Regions from separate parts of the Homo sapiens genome. Here region 2 is linked to region 1. Evidence: fine-mapped expression QTL. Tissue or cell type: whole blood. Region 1 holds a variant in brackets; the other region holds the start of a gene. All regions are shown on one strand. Distances are between the middles of the regions.

Region 1 (7,502 bases):
GAGACAGGGGTCTCACTATGTTACCTAACTGGTTTCCAACTCCTGGCCTCAAGCAATCTTCCCTCCTCGGCCTCTCAAAGTGCTGAGATTAAAACTGTCTCGTGGCCAGGGTGCGGTGGCTCATGCCTGTAATCCCAGCACTTTGGGAGGCCGAGATGGGCGGATCACAAGGTTAGCAGTTTGAGACCAGCTTGGTCAACATGGTGAAACCCCGTCTCTACTAAAAATTAGCCGGTAGTCCCAACTACTCAGGAGGCTGAGGCAGGAGAATCGCTTGAACCCAGGAGGTGGAGGTTGTAGTGAGCCAAGATCGCACCACTGCACTCCAGCCTGGGGGACAGAGTGAGACTCTGTCTCAAAAAAAAAAAAAAAAAAAAAAAAGTCAGCCTTACATTTTGTACTGGATGATAAAAGATTTTAAAAAATAAAAAACGGTTGGGTGCGGTGGCTCACACCTGTAATCCCAGTACTTTGGGAGGCCGAGGCAGGTGGATCACCTGAGGTCTGGAATTCGAGAAAGTATAAAAAAAATTAGCCGGACATGATGGTGGGTGCTTGCAATCCCAGCTACTTGGGAGGCTAAGGCAGGAGAATCTCTTGAACCCAAGGAGGCAGAGATTGCAGTGAGCCAAGATCACACCATTGCACTCCAGCCTAGGCAACAAAAGCGAAACTCCATCTCAAAAAAGTAAATAAATAAAAAATAAAAATAAAAAACTGGCCAGGCGCGGTGGCAACACTTCTAGAGGCCGAAGTGGGCGGATCGCTTGAGGTCAGGAGTTCTAGACTACCCTGGCTAACATGGTAAAACCCTGTCTCTACTAAAAATACAAAAATTAGCAGGGCGTAGTGGCGCAAAACTGTAGTCCCAGCTACTCAGGAGGCTGAGGCAGGAGAATCGCTTGAACCAAGGAGGGAGGTTGCAGTGAGCTAAGATTGTGCCACTGCACTCCAGCCTGAGCAACAGTGGGAGACTCCGTCTCAAAAAATTAAAAAATAAAATAAATAGGCCAGGCGCAGTGGTTCATGCCTGTAATCCTAACACTTTGGGAGGCCGAGGCAGGCGGATCGCCTGAGGTCAGGAATTTGAGACCAGCCTGGGCAACATAGTGAAACCCCATCTCTACTAAAATACAAAAAAAAAAAGAATTAGCCGGGCGTGGTGGCACGTGCCTGTGGTCCCAGCTACTGGGGAGGCTGAGGCAGAAGAATCACGTGAACCCATGAGGCGGAGGTTGCAGTGAGCAGAGATCGCGCCACTGCACTCCTGCCTGGGTGACAGAGCGAGACTCTGTCTCCAAAAAAATAAAAAATAATAAGTTTTTTTTAAAAGGTGTCAGCCACCATGCCCAACCCAAGCTTTATTCCAACAAAAGGCAAATGCTTGGTAACTGCATCAAACACATCCAAAAACTCTAGGAGCTTTGTTAGCTGTAGGGCATCCCCCAGCAGCCTCTGCCCAACAGAGGCCCAAGGAGGGTGTGGGTCCCACCCTACCCCGCCCTGGGACTGCACAACTTCAGCAGGGCCCCACAGCACAGCCCAGGGACAGAGCTAAAGACTCCAGGCTCAAAAGCACCCCTCAGGACTCTCAAAGCAGGAGCCATCAGCCCCAGGCCGTCCAGGACAAGGCCCTAAAACAGGACCAGCAGACTACAGGTGTCTTCCGGCCCAACCAGAGGCAGGAATGGAGAAACGCACACACATTCACACGCCATCAATGACATGCGACCGCAAGGCCGTTATCATCCCTCCAGAGATCTCTCAGTGTTTGTCTCTCAAACACACACGCAGCATGGCGCCCAAGCTCACCCCATGTTAGCCTCTGCCTTCACCCAGAGGCCTCCTGTACCCCTGGGCTTTCCCCTCTTCCCATCGTGGGCCACTCAGTTTCAATTTCCTCCCCTTTTGGAGAAAAAGAAAGCAAATCTCCTCCAGATGACGTCAGCCACAGGAAGCACAGACGCGAAGCCCCGTTCCACCCTCTTAAAGACACAGGATGGCCCCGCCCAGCAGCCGGCTAGCAGCCAAGGAGCCAAGGGGCGGGGGCCGGGGAGGAGGGGAAGCAGAGGTGCCCCATTTGCCTCCCAGAGCTGCCTCCCTGAGCCAAGCCTACAGGGCCTGACCTCAGAATGCAGCCTGGCCACTAGGGGGTCTAAGAGCCACCCCAGCCTCAGTGGGCCCCAACCACACTCTAGCTCAGCAGCACCCCCACCCCCACTTCCACCTAACCCACCGGCCCTGTTCCACCAGCCTCCAGGAGGAGCTTCTGCATCCATCTAGGCCCAGAGGGCGACCCTGGGGCCCTGGCTGACACACATGCAAGGAGCAAAGTCCAGCCTGTCCCTTTAGCTCCTCCTCTCCCACCAGCACTCTCTCCAATCTGTCTCCCCATGTTCTCCCGGCCACCCTACTGGGGCCACCATGCAAGGTCCATCATGTCACCACCTGCTCAAACGCCAGCTATGGCTCCTGTAGCTCTTGCGATTACAAAGGAATTTGCTTTATAATTACATGTTAAACTGAGTGTGTCTGTGCTTTCCTGTGTATGTATTATAGTTGACAATAAAAGAAGAAAAGAGGCCATGTGCAGTGGCTCACACCTGCAATCCCAGCACTTTGGGAGGCCGAGGCTTTTGGGAAGCTTGAGCCCAGGAGTTCGAGACCAGCCTGGGCAACATGGCAAAACTCCTTCTTTACCTACCAAAAAATACAAAAATTAGCCAGGCTTGGTGGCACGCACCTGTAATCCCAGCTACTCAGGAGGCTTTCTCCAGCCTGGGAGACTGAGTGAGAATCTGTCTCAAAAAAAAAAAAAAAAAGAAGAGGAAGAAAAGAAAAATCTGGGATTTGTCTCACCAGACAGTGAAATTTACAATAAAGGAAATTTTATTATTATTATTTTTTTGAGGCAGGGTCTCACTCTGTTGCCCAGGCTGGAGTGCAGTGGCACGATCACAGCTCACTGCAGCCTCAAACTCCCAGGCTCAAGTGATCCTCCCACCTCAGTCCCCCAAGTAGCTGGAACCACAGGCATGCACCACCACACTCGGCTATTTTTTTATTTTTTGTAGAGACAGGGTCTCACTGTGTTGCCCAGGCTAATTTTTAATCTTTAATTAAAATTTTATTTTTTAATTTAATTTTTTTTTTTTTGAGACAGAGTCTTTCTCTGTCACCCAGGCTGGAGTGCAATGGTGCAATCTCAGCCCACTGCAGCCTCCGCCTCCCCGGGTTCAAGTGATTCTCGTGCCTCAGCCTCCCGAGAAGCTGGGACTACAGGTGCGTGCCACCACACCTGGCTAATTTGTGTATTTTTAGTAGAGATGGGGTTTCACCACGTTGGCCAGGCTGGTCTCGAACTCCCGACCTCAGGTGATCTGCCCACCTTGGCCTCCCAAAGTGCTGGGATTACAGGCCTGAGCCACCGTGCCTGGCCTTTAATTAAAATTTTAAATAAAATAAAACTCCCTATTAGGCCCACAAAGCCATGTGTGGTCTGGAACTGCCCCCTCTCCTTCAACCTCTGTGCTGAGTCCCATCCCCCTCCTTTCAGCTTTGAAAGCACCATGCTGTGTCCTGCTCAAGGCCTTTGCACATGCAGATACTCCTGCCAGCTCAGCCCTTTCCTCCTTTCATCTCAGCCACACCTAACTCATTCCTGCTCACCCCTCAGGCCTCAGGTCACTTCCCCAGGAGCACCCTCCCCACCATGCAGAAGAGGCCAGGCCCCTCAGCACATGCCCGCACGGAATTAAATTCCTTTCTACTTCAGTTCATAAACACACACTCTGTTGTGTGTGAGCATTTGATCAACTACGTCTTGCCCCTGCTTTGTACCATTATCATCCAATACAGCTTTCGGCCACCACTATATTTCCAGTGCCTAGCATATAGTGAGTGCTCAATAAAAAAAAA[A/T]TTTTTGCATAATGTTGTGAATTAATCAATAAATATTGGACAGGTAAATGAATAAATTCACTCAGAGACCCCACCCAGGCACGGTGACCTTAGAAAACCAAGCAACATTCAAGGGGTGGTTGCAGAGCGGGGCTAGGGTACAAGGCCACACGTGGCTACAGTACCAATGGAACTACGCCTCCGAGAGGAAGGAATGGGGTCTCCCAAGGCTGGGGCCAAGCTCAAAAGGCAGAGTCGGCCCAAGCAGGAGGGAGCAGAAGGCAGAGGGGCAGCCACCCCGGCAGGGAGTTTGGGCAGGATTGTAGGGTCTGGGGAGAACTCGGCGGCCTCCAAGAAATGGAAGACTCCAAACCTTAGACAGTGAACAGGCTGGCTCTGGACCTGGGATACCCGCACCCCCACCCTGGTGTCAGCAAGGCCCCAGACAGGCTTGAGGGCCTGAGAACCACAGAAAGGACGCTTTGAGGGCTGGGAGGTAGCACCGGGGCTGTGGCCACACCTCGCCTAATGGGCCTCTCTCCCTTTCCCCTGCACTGTGGCAGTGGAGTCACAGCAGAGGGTCAGTGGTGGCCTCCTTGGGGTCTGCAGCCAGAGCTTCTGCCATTCGGTACTTAGAAACCCAACAGTCTTGCCCGACAGTCCTGTGAGTGCAAGGAGCTGGGAAGAGGACATGACAGTAGGATCCAAAACAACCAGGAGACTATCTGGGGAGTGAATAAGGCAAGAATGGCTGGAGCCACTCACCATTAAACAGAGATTCACTTGCCAAAGTCTAGGGGGCAGAAGACCTGGGCCAACCCTGAGCCCACAAATAGGGCCACACTATAACCCCTGCCATGGGTGGCATCCTCCTGCGGCAGGGGTTCTGGGCCAGGCAGATGTGGGCCCATCTGGATCCAGGCTCCAGCCTGCTGCCTCATGCCTAGGGAACTCAAAAAGTAGCCCAGGTCGGGCACAGTGGCTCAGCCTGTAATCCCAGCATTTTGGGAGGCTGAGGCGGGCAGATCACAAGGTCAGGAGCTCGAGACCAGTCTGGCCAACATGGTGAAACCCCATCTCTACTAAAAATACAAAAATTAGCCGGGCATGGTGGCCGGCACCTGTAATCCCAGCTACTCAGGAAGCTGAGGCAGGAGAATTGCTTGAACCCAGGAGGCGGAGGTTGCAGTGAGCAGAGATTGTGCCACTGCACTCCAGCCTGGGCAACAGGAGAGAAACTCCATCTCAAAAAAAAAAAAAAAAAAAAGTAGCCCAGAGGGAGATAGCCAGAGGCAAGGGTCCCAAAATAAGGAGAGGAGGAGGGGTCAGTGGCAGAGAGTGGGGCAGAGCTGGGGTGGGGCTCCTGGCCTGGGGTCTTTCCCCTGCCTGGCTTCTCCTGAGCTCCTGGCCATGGCCTCGACAGCAGGGGCCAGGCCCTCAACATGGAGCCAACTCTCCAGTGGACAAACAGTGCCCTTGGCCAAGTAGGCAGCACATGGATGCCCAGCAGAGGATGTCTCCTTGGGACCCAGACAGGCAGCCACCTGAGAGAGTTCAAAAGAGAGGAGTCATTGATGACCCTGTCCCCCTCCCCTCCTCCCAGCACCCACTTCTTTGGCTCCTGCACCTTTATAAAGCAGGTCCTAGGCATGAGCTGGGGCTCAGAACAAAGCAGAGGACAAGAGATGACATGAGGCGCGGGAGGGGGAGCATCACTCCAGTCACCTGCTCTTCTCGATGCATGGGCAAAATAGCCTGGGGCAGGAGGCAGCAGGGCACGCCAAGCACACGGCACACGAGGCCCAGTGCTATGCACACCACGGCGGCAGCTGGGCTAACAGAACAGGTCCCACATGCACACCTTGGGGAGTCAGAGGTGCCTCTGAGCTGGCCCCAGTCACCTCCCTGCTGCCACAACCCCAGGAAGCCACTCCTCCTCCTATGCCCCTCTGGGAGCTTGTTCCGCACTGTCTCCTCCTTGTTGTCCCAGCTCAAATCTATAACATTGAGAAAAAAAAAAAAAAAAGAAACAGAACAACCCTTCACATGGATTCTCCAACTCCTTTTTTTTGTTGTTGCAACCTCTGCCTCCTGGGTTCAAGTGATTCTCCTGCCTCAGCCTACAGAGTAGCTGGAATTACAGGCACCCGCCAACACGCCCAGCTAATTTTTGTTATTTTTAGTAGAGACAGGGTTTCACCATGTTGGCCAGGCTGGTCTTGAACTCCTGGCCTCAGGTGATCTGTCCACCTCAGCCTCCCAAAGTGCTGGGATTATAAGCATTAGCCACCACGCCCGGCCTCCCTTTTAAAAACAAAAAACAAAAAACACGGGGTCGCCCAGGCTGGAGTGCAGGGATTATTCCCAGGCAGGATCATACCTCACTGTAGCCCTGAACTCCCGGCCTACAGCGATCCTCCTGCCTCAGCCTCCCAAGTAGCTGGGACTACAGAAGTGTGGCACTGTGCCCAGCTTCAATGCCTGTCTTACTCCTCATCCATTCACGGCTAAAACTCTCCAAGGAGTTGCCTGCGACCAGCATACAATTTCCAACTGCTCTTCAATCTGCTCCACTGCCTCGCTCTTGCCCAGGGTGCCATGGACTCCGTGGTGTGAAATCTCCATTCCACAGCGCACTTCACCACAAGCCTGCCCTCCTCCAGTGTCCAGCCCCTGCTCCTTCCCACTCCCTCCACACCCTGCCTTGTGGGAGCTGCTGAATGTAAGTCTCCATCCTCACCTCTTGCCACCAAGCTCTGGCTCTCTCTGGCTCTCTCTGGCCTCCAGCGCCTCTGGCCAGGAAGCCGCCTGAGGCCACCTCCTACAGAAACGACTTCCCACCTCCCACACCCACCCCATCTGCTCTTTCCATCTTCCACAGAGCAGCCAGTGTGGTCTTCCTAAAACTCCATTCGGTCCCCAGCGCTCCCAGAACCCTCTGTGATGCCCACTGTCCTCAGGACGAGGCCCACTCCTTGACTGCCTCCAGGCCCACACAGGCTGGGCATAGGCATCTCCCACGGGGCCATCTGAAAGCCCACAATCCTGGGCCTCAGGGCAGGACAGCCGCTCCTGGGCTCCTGGACGTGGAGGGGAAGGCCTGTAGAGATCTCAGGCTCCAACCAGCCCTGAGGTGTTGAGGAGGGGCACAGCTGCACTTCTTCCCCTCCTCCACGCACAGGAGCCCTGCCCTGATTCTGCTGTAGCCAGTGAGGCCCCACACCTGCCTGGGCCTACAGGATGGGATGGGGCAAAACAAGAACCCAAGCCCCCCACTCAGGCCCAGAGCCCAAGGTCTCTTCCTCCAAAGGGGAAACCCTGCCCTCCTGGGCAGACCTTTTCTTTAAGCGGCTTCTAGATCCACCAGGGAAGAGGGGAGACAGCAAGTGGAACAGACCCAGGCAGGAAAGCCCGCCCTAGTGGCTGCACACCCATTCCACCTCCAGGAAGATGTCACAACTCCTGTTACGGTGGCAATAACACAGGCCGGAGCCCAGCCAAGGGGACTGGGGTTTGGGGGCTGGGGTTGCTCCTTGGTTCCCTGAGAGGAGAGTCCTGACACAGTAACCATGACCCACAAAGCTTCACACAGGAACTGTGGCATC
Region 2 (5,718 bases), 880 kb after region 1:
AATATTAAAAAGTAGCCAGGCATGGTGGTAGGCACCTGTAATCCCAGCCACTGGGGAGGCTGAGGCAGGAGAATCGCTTAAACTTGGGAGGTGGAGGCTGCAGTGAGCTGAGATCATGCCACTGCACCCCAGCCTGGGCAAGAGTGAGACTCCTGAGAGTTCCAAGGAACAACACAAGTAGAGTGAGGTCCAAAGGGGAAGCTGATAGTTCTACCTGGGTCACCCCAAGGGGGACTCAAAGGCTGGGGCAGAGAGAACCAGAGGGAGGTGGGCCTGTTCAGGAGTTCTCAGGATGGAGCCAGAGCAGGTCCAGAAGGCCCTACAATCCTTAGTGACCTAAGGGCAGACAAAGGGGGAAAGCAGCAGCAAAGATCACTGCTTAGGGCAAGAGGAAAAGTCCTTGAGAGTTGGTTCAGACTAAGAAGGACCTTGAGTCACGAATTTGAACACAAATGCTGGGACTCCAGAACCTCTGGTCCACAGTCAGCGGGTGAACAGCACTACCATGTCTCTGGGTACCTGTTTGCACAAGCGGAAGCTACACCCAGGCCCTGCAGTCCCCTGCACTGCGTTAGGAAATGGCTCCAAATCTGTCTTGAAAGATTATTGCTGCTCAAGCCTGTAATCCCAGCACTTTGGGAGGCCAAGGCGGGTGGATCACGAGGTCAGGAGATCGAGACCATCCTGGCTAACACGGTGAAACCCCGTCTACTAAAAAACAGAAAAAAATTAGCCGGGCGTGGTGGCGGGCGCCTGTAGTCCCAGCTACTCGGGAGGCTGAGGCAGAATGGCGTGAACCCGGGAGGCGGAGCTTGCAGTGAGCCGAGATTACACCACTGCACTCCAGCCTGCGCAACAGAGCAAGACTGTCTCAAAAAAAAAAAAAAAAAAAAAAAAATTAAAGATTATTGGCAGCAGGGTCAACAGATGGAGAGGCTGGACCTGAGTGGTGCCCGAGAAGCAGCAGCTGGCTTCAAAGACAAGCCCTTATCCTGGGCCTGAATGTGCAATTAATTGCACGTTAAGTGTTGGGCAGGGCATAGTCAGAAGGGCCAGTTAAATTATAGTTTTCTCACTCTTGAATATATGAGGCAGAAACTTGTAAGATCATCGTCACAGCAGATACAGGCACTTGGTAGCAACATGGAAAGATCTAGCCAGATAACAGAATTTATAACATTGCATGAGCTTCCGTGTAAAATGGGATTGTGTGGACCTAACAATTGGAGAGGCCATGACTCCAAATGTGAGTGGGGGCTCATGTTATTTTGTGACAGTCATTTCAGCGTGCAGCAAGTAGTCAGAAGTCTATCATTTGAGTTAGGCAGTCAACCATTGCCTTGTGTCTTTTTTGAAGTAAGGACTTTGTTGTAACTGGGTCTTGAGATGGCCCTTTGCATGTTCTGGTGAAGGCAGAAATGCAGGCCAGGAGCCAGACTTCCCACAAAGGAAAGAGTGGATCCTACACGCTGCAGACAAAAGGACAGAAAGTTCAGACTTGGCTAGGATAAGGGAAGGAGGATTAAGTTCCCACCACTATGACAATGAGGTTAGAAAAAGTATCGCCAGGCCGGGTGCGGTGGCTCATACCTGTAATCCCAGCACTTTGGGAGGCCGAGGCGGGTGGATCACGAGGTCAGGAGATCGATACCATCCTGGCTAACACGGTGAAACCCTGTCTCTACTAAAAATACAAAAAATTAGCCGGGCGTGGTGGCAGGCACCTGTAGTCCCAGCTACTCAGGAGGTTGAGGCAGGAGAATGGCGTGAACCCGGGAGGCGGAGCTTGCAGTGAGCCTAGATTGCGCCACTGCACTCCAGCCTGGGCAATAGAGCAAAAAACTCCGTCTCAAAAAAAAAAAAAAAAAAAGAAAAGAAAAAGAATTCCCAAATGACAATGACACAGGACATACACACAGTTCTGCTGACACCCGGCACTTTATTAGTGGGGAAACTCGCCTTGGTCTGGCAGAGACTGGGATCAACAGGACCAGCACCCATCTCGAGGTGGTATTTTCTGTAAGATCAGGTGTTCCTCCCTCGTAGGTTTAGAGGAAACACCCTCATAGATGAAAACCCCCCCGAGACAGCAGCACTGCAACTGCCAAGCAGCCGGGGTAGGAGGGGCGCCCTAGGCACAGCTGGGCCCTTGAGACAGCAGGGCTTCGATGTCAGGCTCGATGTCAATGGTCTGGAAGCGGCGGCTGTACCTGCGTAGGGGCACACCGTCAGGGCCCACCAGGAACTTCTCAAAGTTCCAGGCAACATCGTTGCGACACACCGGAGACCAGGTGATGAGCTTGGGGTCGGTCATAAGCGCGGTGGCGTCGTCGCTGGGAGCTGGCAGGGCCTCCCGCAGGAAGGCGAAGAGAGGGTGCGCCCCCGCACCGTTCACCTCGCACTTCTCGAAGAGCATGAAGTTGGGCTCGAACCCACCACCAGGCCGGACGTACTTGAGGGAATTCAGAATCTCTTCGTTCTTGGCGTTCTCCTACAGGAGAGAAGGGCAGCTAGAACCCGGGGTCAAGAGGAGGAGAGAAACGTTCTAACCACAAACAAGGGAGATTTTCTATGAGTCACCGGGATTTTGCCCTCCATGCGCAATCCCAAGGGCGGAGAGGAATTTCAGCAGCTACGAGCAACAGAAAGGAAACGAGAGAGTAGCCAGACTCTCCGCGCATGGAGCCGACGGCACCCACCAGCACACCGCCGGCGCCCCCAGCCACTACTGCACGTCCGCCCCCGCCCCGCCCCGCTCCGCCCGGCGCACCTGATGCCCAAACTGGTTGCACGGGAAGCCGAGCACCACCAGGCCCCGGGGTCCGAGGCGCCGCTGCAGCTCGTTCATCTGGGTGTAGTCCCGGACCGTGGTGCCTCAGAGGGACGCCACATTCTCGATAAGTAGTACCTTGCCCCGCAGGGAGCCCAGGCTCACAGGCTCCCCGCCGGCCAGCGGGCGCGCCGAGAAGGCATACACCGACTGGGCCGCCGCCGCCGCCGCCGCTAGCCGAGCAGCACACATGGCGCAATTGTCCAAGAAGCCAGCGGAGCGCCCCGAACAAGCACTGTAAGGGGAGGCCAGCAGGCGCCTCCTTTTAACTGGCCGGCGGCGGGTCACGTGGCACAGGCAGTTTTCCGGGCCTGAGGGTCCCGCCTCATCCGGCCCCCGCCCTACCCGGAGGGCTCGGCCCCTCCTCAGCCAGGAAAAGGCTGGAGAGTGCGCCCGAGCGGGACGCGTGCTCCTCCTAAGCCGGAAGGAGCAGCAGGCATGTCTGGTCTGGCCCAGGCAACCAGGCGGCAGCGGTCCAGGTTACCCTTCCAAGGGCTGGGGCCCTCGAGGGCTCCGTTTTTTCTCAGAGGTTCCTGAGTTAGGATGTGGGGTTTGGCATAGGAGGCTGGTGGGCGACGGCAGCAGCTGCAGGAGCTGCCCGTGCACAAACAGCCCTCCTCTCCTGTGCCATGTTACCGGCAGTGCAGGGGACAGCCAGAGGGATCTAGGCTTCCGGTCTCCCTCCTCCCTGTCTCCAAAGCGGCACCGCCCTCGTGCGGGTTTTCTAACCGGGCAGAGTCCTGGAAGCTCTGCCCCAGCCTCCTTAAGTGGAGCCCAGTAGCTCGCCGAGGCCAAGGAAACGCTGCCGGAGTCCTCCCTCCCTGGCCTCCTCAGGCTGCATTCACCCTACCCCCAAATCTGAACCAGAATGCGGTACAGGGTAATCATTTCCATGTTGTTGGGAGGGACCAGATTAGCTGCTGGGTGGGTGGGAGGTGGGGCACAAGCTAGTCCTTTGCACTCAACAAACCTCTCCAGGGTGAGCTAGGCCAGGAAGTCCTTGCATCCTCCTACCCCCAGCCCTGGAGAGAGCAACACAAACAACAGGATACAGGAAGTTTAGAAAACTGCCTTTATTCTATTAGTAGTTGGAAAAATTAACTGGTACAGAAAAAAAGTTTAGTCAGCTGGAGAGAAGAGAGACTGAGTGCCACCCATGAGAACTGGTGGCTCCTCTGGGAGGGAACCTGGATACAGTGAGGAGAAAAGAGCACTGTGAATTAGAGCCAGATGCTTAAGTCCAGGTGAGACAGGTTATGCCATCTTCCAAAGTGTCTAATTGCCTCAGGCGTGAAACCAATTCCTATTTACTTAGCCCAGCTCCATGGGGTACTGAGATACATGGGGCCGAAAAGGGGTAATATGGCCATCTTTTATCAGAAAAAGTGACAAAACGGGAATTTAAAAAATGAATTTTCCATCTGACTTTATTTCCAAATACACTTTCTTTTTTAAAAAACCAATACACTTTCTTTGAGGATGACAGTATTAGGAAATCCAATTATACAAAAAATACTACATCTAGTCTGGGGTAGATATATTTATTTTTGGTAACATACATTAAGTGGCACTAATTACACAGTAACTATAAGGTAACTAACATGAAACCACAGAACTGTAACTCTGCCACAGCTGCATGAACTTGGGCTTTTCTGGTTGAGCCCATTTTCAAAAAACTGCCCACCCCAGAGCTATGCCAACAAAATCTGTTACGGAGTAAAGCCCTGAAGTGGTGACTCACCAGAGTACCTTGCAGCTGACAGATAATAGGCAGGACATGTTAGTTATAAAGTAGTTACAGCCTAATTCACAAAAGTTACCAACTGTTTCTCTTTCTAGAAAGAAGCAAGAAGTTAAGAAATTCCTTGAATTAGCGCCTGGTGTGTCAGGTGGGAGTGCAGAGGAGGGCTGTTAGAGCAGTGTCAAAAGGACCCTGGTGGGCCAGACGGGTTGGACATCGTTAATAATCATAGTTGGCTTCTAAATACTGGTAGCAAGATGACTTCTGATTTGTAATCTTAGGTAAATTATAGATAAATGAAAAAGGCCAGTAATCATACACTAAGATTAATAAACAGCACTTCAAAATTAACCGCATAAGGGCTGTGCTTGCAGCAAGGTTTCACAAGACAAGGCACCCAGATTTTTTCTTCCCACGTCTAGCTTGCAGAGCAGCTCTCGTAGCCATTTCAAAAACCTCTCTCACTCCATCTTTGGTCTTTGCTGAACACTCCATGTACCCAAAAGCGCCAATCCTGTTTGCCATATCTCTGCCTTCTTCAGGTTTCACCGGCTCCTAGCAAAGAAAAAAAAATAGTCCTTTTAGCTAATAGTGTGGCATACATATAGTAAGTAAAAAGTATTCAAATTCATCTAAAAGATTTTTTTTTCTTTTTTTGAGACAGTTTTGCTCGTCGGTCGCCCAGGCTGGAGGGCAATGGCATGATCTCAGCTGACTGCAACCTCCACCTCCTGGGTTCAAGGGATTCTCCCGCCTCAGCCTCCCGAGTAGCTGGGACTACAGGTGCCCACCACCACGCCCAAGTAATTTTTTAGTAGAGATGGGGTTTCACCATTTTGGCCAGGCTGGTCTCGAACTCCTGACCAAGTGATCTGCCCACCTCGGCCTCCCAAAGTGCTGGGATACAGGCATGAGCCACTGTACCCAGCCTAAAAAAAAAAAAGACTTTCAAAAGCTGTTAAACTTGGCTGGGTGTGGTGGCTCACACCTGTAATCCCAGCACTTTGGGAGGCTGAGCTGGGCGGATCACGAGTTTAGGAGATCAAGACCATCCTGGCCAACATGGTGAAACCCCTCTTTACTAAAATACAAAAAATCACCTGGGTGTGGTAGTGGGCGCCTGTAACCCCAGCTACTCAGGAGGCTG

What was found. PIP is the estimated chance that this variant, and not a neighbour inherited with it, causes the effect.
Region 2: it holds the start of GPX1, and the variant in region 1 is fine-mapped to the expression of GPX1 in whole blood (TOPMed, PIP above 0.99).

The regions. Positions count from the first base shown.
Region 1 is chr3:48,471,198-48,478,699 of GRCh38, forward strand. The region is part of intron 3 of SHISA5 (shisa family member 5); the gene reads right to left. Among named protein-coding and RNA genes, the nearest start is that of TREX1, 8.7 kb to the left of the region's middle. RefSeq lists enhancers at 1,353-2,212, 1,485-2,104, 2,245-2,354, 3,074-3,933. The variant A/T (reference allele first, on the strand shown) is at 3,919.
Region 2 is chr3:49,355,257-49,360,974 of GRCh38, forward strand. It overlaps GPX1 (glutathione peroxidase 1), which reads right to left and starts at 3,097. Exons shown (of 2, transcript NM_000581.4): 1 at 2,771-3,097; 2 at 1,920-2,491. The coding sequence starts at 3,022. The coding sequence ends at 2,132. RHOA (ras homolog family member A) reads right to left here. Exons shown (of 5, transcript NM_001664.4): 5 at 3,889-5,126. The coding sequence ends at 4,953. RefSeq lists enhancers at 2,773-3,381, 3,290-3,619, 3,382-3,990 and a silencer at 3,070-3,129.